2 separate regions of the Homo sapiens genome follow, and region 2 is linked to region 1. Evidence: fine-mapped expression QTL. A gene starts in region 1. The other region holds a variant in brackets. All regions are shown on one strand. Distances are from middle to middle.

Evidence for each region. PIP is the estimated chance that this variant, and not a neighbour inherited with it, causes the effect.
Region 2: its variant is fine-mapped to the expression of MPZL3 in whole blood (TOPMed, PIP above 0.99).

What each region holds. Positions count from the first base shown.
Region 1 is chr11:118,251,195-118,253,694 of GRCh38, reverse strand. MPZL3 (myelin protein zero like 3) reads left to right here and starts at 1,330. Exons shown (of 6, transcript NM_198275.3): 1 at 1,330-1,473. The coding sequence starts at 1,401. It overlaps MPZL2 (myelin protein zero like 2), which reads left to right. Exons shown (of 6, transcript NM_005797.4): 6 at 1-279. RefSeq lists enhancers at 888-1,448, 1,798-1,847, 1,449-2,010.
Region 2 is chr11:118,225,181-118,228,157 of GRCh38, reverse strand. MPZL3 (myelin protein zero like 3) reads left to right here. Exons shown (of 6, transcript NM_198275.3): 6 at 1-1,468. Among named protein-coding and RNA genes, the nearest start is that of JAML, 1.7 kb to the right of the region's middle. The variant C/A (reference allele first, on the strand shown) is at 1,677.

The DNA of each region.
Region 1 (2,500 bases):
CAATTCTAACCTTTGAAAATATTATAACTGGATATTTCTTCAAACAGATGTCCTGGATGATGGTCCATAAGAATAATGAAGAAGTAGTTAAAAATGTATGGACAGTTTTTCCGGCAAAATTTGTAGCTTATGTCTTGGCTAAATAGTCAAGGGGTAATATGGGCCTGTTGTTTAGTGTCTCCTTCCTAAAGAGCACTTTTGTATTGTAATTTATTTTTTATTATGCTTTAAACACTATGTAAATAAACCTTTAGTAATAAAGAATTATCAGTTATATAATTTGTGTATATACATATCTAGAAGTTCTACATTGCAGGAAAAACAGATGGATATATATTTAATCTTTACCAAAAAGTTTTCTTAGTAGAGACAACCTGCAAGTCAATAATGGATACAGTTAGTTTCTAATGGGTAAACAGAAGTATACGGATTTCCACAGAATTTTCACACTGTTTTGGATAGCTGGGAATTGGGCATAACAACACTACTTAGTTTGAGGGCTCTTTCAAAGAAAAGTATCAAAGATTCTATTTAGTACTTTGCATTACACTTTTAATAGGGAAAACTACTGGCTTTCAAGTCTAGTAAAGGAATGGAAATTGAAAAATGGAAACTTATTAATTCTTCCCCAAAGCGAAAGCATACTTTTATTCTCCTCCTGCTTTCATTGACATGTGGCAATTTCCAGGGAAGAGGCTTACTGATTATTAAAGCAGTGTACTTATTGTACCATCTCTTTTTCAGAAGTATGTGACGCCATCTCACTTCAAGTACTGTGATAACATAACTTTCTTACTTTTCCAACCAAAGACACAGAAATCCCAGTTCCTCTTTTCCTCTAATACAGGCTGTAATGATTTGATCATCATTGCCACCGCCAAAAGTAATTTAATAAACACCCAATTTTGGAGGCTGCAATACTTACACTAAAAAGGACACCAACCAATGAGGCTTGTGGCACATATCACTACAAGCACCTAATATATATTTATCTATACTGTATGATCTCCCAGGTGTTTCTGAACTCTAAATTTACAGTAGTGTATTCTGAGAACCTTCAACTAAATCTCGAGACGTAAAAACGATGTCTGACATGCAGTCAGAGCATCAAAATTATTTAGTTCTGCAGAATTCCATAAAAACAAAATTGTAATTATTCCAAGTCCGTAGCCTACTTCATTTTCAAGCAAAAGAGAGCATTTAGCTCCCGCCTGAAAGTTAATAAATCTCTGGTCAGTGAAACCAGGTGTGGTTCTGGAAAGAAGCCAGGTTCCTATGGTAACTTCGGATCGCCATTTAAGTTGTCTCTCGGCCTCCTGCTCTGACGTCACTTCCGGTGTTACCTGTGTCGTTACCGGGAGCTGTAAACAAGGTGTGCAAGCATCTGAAGAGCTGCCGGGATGCAGCAGAGAGGAGCAGCTGGAAGCCGTGGCTGCGCTCTCTTCCCTCTGCTGGGCGTCCTGTTCTTCCAGGGTGAGTGCTCCGGCTGGCTACGCTCCACTTCCGGCCGGGGGGTTAGGGAAGATGGTCGCTTTTCCGGTTCCGGGTAGGGGGGTCTCCAGAAAGCCCCCGCATAGCTCTGGGAAGGAAGGAGGGAGGGAGCGGGACGTTGGGACGATGTCATCACCACCCCGTTGAGGATAGTTGGTATTTTGTCAGTCCTTTCCTGAGCTTTGGGAGCTTTTTCACCTTGCGTGACCTGTCATTGTAGTTTGGTGATAGCATACTTGATGGAACCACAAAGAGCTCTGGCTTTGGGGGCACCCGGTGTTATTTTGTGGTGTTATTATCAGTGGTTGACCGCTGTCGTTTGGGCGCTGTATACCCTGATTAGAAAGAAAACAGTTCTAGCATTCAGTAGTTTGCCCCAGTAGTTTTGGGAAACAAAATCATGACAGTTGGTAATTTTATTTTTTGTAGGTGATTATTGTAGTCTATAAAATGAAATATTTGCTAGTCACAGAAGGGATGTGATGTGATTCGTTATAGAGAAGCATATCGATGAAAAAGTAACTGCTTTAGCATTTTCATAACTTTTTTTAATACAAGAAAGAGCATATAAATTCTGTTAAAATTTATTAAGTAATATCAGAAGTAGGGTATTCACACTGACATTCACATCTTAAAATTAGGTGAGTTTTGCTTTCATATAATTTTCAAATTGCATAAATTTCAATCCAGCCTAATTACCTTCATCTTAAGGTACAATTATTTCCTGGATTTTGTGTATGTGTGTCTTCCTGGGAAATAAAATATTAGTATATCTAGTATTAGAGTGAATTGCTAAATTTATAAAATTTCCTTGAGGGTAATGGGGATTTCTGAAAGAGATATTTAATATTATATAAATATAAATAGTTTAATATAAAGACTTCAGATGTCCTAAATCTTAGCAGTTAAGGCTGGAAAGTTTTTAACTGGTGACTAATATTCATGTTGCCAGCACACCCCCGATCCCTCCCAGCTGCCTGTGTCATCATAAGTCTCCAGTTTTTAAGCT
Region 2 (2,977 bases), 26 kb after region 1:
AGTCCACAGATGAGCGAATCTGGTTAGTTGAAGGACATTGTGATTTGACTCTGGTCACGCGAGGAAGTAGAAGGGCAAAGACAGGACCGGCAGTTTACATTTCCAGTGGTTAAACCTCACGGTACTTTGGGACTGCTTGTTAACTTTTGTGGTTGTCTGAGGCCAATCTAACGTGACCATTTCTGACACCTCAACAGAGAGAGGAAAGCAACTTGAGCAATGAGAGTAAATAACTTGGGCTCTCAGAGATTTGAAGATAGAGATCTCATTGTGAGGGGGACTATTTTGCAGGTCCTCATTTCTCCAAGAAAGAGATGGTGTTACAGGAACCCACTGAAAGCCATATCCCATTAAATGAGGAACTAATTTTGGCTGGGCCTTCTTGTAATGTCCTCGCAGGTGTGTTGTGAAGATTAATGCAGGGTAGTATGTTTGTAGATTGACACCTAGTCTAAACTTGAGGTAATTGGTGCTCTGTGAATACTCAGTCGTGTTCTTTTATAGCCTTAATCATGATTTGAACTAGTCCCTTGCTTTTTAAATGACTGAATGAAGTCCTTCGTGGTAAGGGAGTACGTTGATAACTTAGTTTACTATATGGGTTTGTGGTCGCATCCCAGTCATCAGCTGCTATCATTTTCCTTCTTCATCCCTTATACTGAGATTTGGGTTACAGCTTTTTATTCTTCGAAGGATCACAAAGCAGTGTACAGACACCTGCCTTCTTTAAGGATGAAAGGAAGATAAAGTGGTCTTTTTTTGTTTACTTATTTGTTTCACCTCTTGTTTGAGTAACTTCTAAGGTGCTATTCTCTCTCTCTTTTTGCTACCTCATGAGCTCTTGTCACAGCCATGGAAACCAGCCTCGTTTAGAAAGGGAACTTAGTTCAGAAGGGGTTAAAAGCCTTCCAGAATTTTTCTTTAGCTGCTGAAGTTTTTACATGTGGTTACATGACTTTAAGTTTTATGCATTACGCTCTTAATTCTATTACAAAATGTGGACTCACCAATTGCTTTGTGTTTTCCATGTGACCTGTTACTTCAGGCTACTTGGGGAACATCTTAGTCCTCTGTAGCTCCTGAACCCAGCACTGGTGCTTCAAGAGAGAAGGTAGCACGTCTTTGTTCAAAACAAAACAAAACGACACTTCTGGAGGCCACATCCTGAATATGAATGTTCTACTAAGTCACTCAGTTATGGTTCTAAAGGGAAACTGTAAGAAGACCCACAAGGAGTGGACCAAGACTATTATTTAATTGCACAACTTGAAACTTTGCTGCCAGAAGAGGCAGCTCCATTCCTTTGACTCCAGTGTTGGGCTGTTAACTGCTGCACCTCATTGCCTTTTTTTGTTTTTGTTTTTGTTTTGTAGGAGGGTAGGCACTGTTGGGCCATATGCACAAATATTGTAACTCTTGGTATCTTTACTGCATCATAGTCAATAAACTTCTTTGTACCCTTTGGCTACCTTTTGGTGTGTGCATATCTACATAAAAGGTGGGAATTGTCATGTGAAAAAGATGGGGGTTTGTGGTATTAAAAGCTGAATTAAATTTAAAAGAGTTTAATTGAGCACAGAATGATTCATGAATCAGGCAGTCTCCTGAGCCAGAGTGGACTCAGAGACTCCAGCGCAGCCACGTGGTGGAAGATTTATGGACAGCAAAAGGAAAGT[C/A]ATGTACAGGAAACAGAAGTGAGGTACAGAAATAGCCGGATTGGTTACAGCTCGGTGTTTGCCTTATTTGAATAGTTTGAATCATTGGCCATCTTCGATTGGCCAAACTCAGTGACTGGCACAAGAGTAGACTAGAGTCCGTATACTATTCCATTTACGTTATAGTTCATGATGTACAGAGAAACCTTTAGGCCAAACTTAAAATATGTAAGGAGGCAGCTTTAGGCTAAACTTGATTTAACAGTGGTTTTCAGCATCGTGCAACCAGTCATGTCGGAGCTGTACCCCCGCAAGAACCTGCAGAGGTTCCGTGGTGTGCTGGAACCAGCTTACATAGCAAGAGCTGATTACAGGCTGAGTACCCCTAATCTGAAAATACAAAAGAGTGGTTGCTATTTCAACTCCAAAATCTGTAACTTTGAGTGCCAACATGATGCTCCAAAGAAATGCTTATTGGAGCATTTTGGATTTTCAGACTAGGGACGTTCAACTTGTATGTATTCGGCAAATATTCTAAAATCTGAAAAAAATATGAAATCTGAAACATTTCTGGTCCCAAGCATATTGGATAAGGGATACTCAACCTGTATTAAGTTTTTTAGGAATTTTGCAAGCCAGTTGTTAAACTGTTGGTAGCTTGAAATAGGTTATGATGGGAATATTTATGCTGTGGAGATTGCTGGCTCTCTAGCACATCACTTCTCAAGGACCATGCAGCGTAGTGCTTGGGAGCAAACGTTCAACAGCTTTTCAGATGATACAGGACAAGTTCCATGAGTCTGCCCATGCCTAGGTCAAGCCAATCTAGCCGAGGTTGAAGGTGCGTACATTGAGAACACCTATTTTGAAGTGGTGACTAAGACTGAGAGGTATCTTGAAGTGAAGAAACCTTGAGTTCTAATCTAGGATGTCCAAGTCACCCAAGAGGTTCTCTATGGGAATCAATGGCTGCCTGTATTCTGGAAATGCTGATATCACATGGCCAGAGGAAACTTTCATGTCTACATGGTGAGTTGGAGGACTGGGCAGGCGTATCTTTGGAAGCAGGGATTGGGTGATTGCCTGGCGAGGTTGCACCTCTGTTTTGAGAGGAAAAATAAAAGAGGTTGCTGTATCTTTAACACAGAAGGTTTTGTGTTAATATTACGTTTATTGTATTTTGTTTGCATGAAATGGATTTCTTTCTCAGCACCTATTTGCCTGGTGCCATTCAAGCTCCTACCCTCAGAGGGCTTGTCATCTAAAAGGGGAGATGGCACCTGAAGAGGTCTGAGTGTGAGGTTCACCTCAGTAGGTTGAAT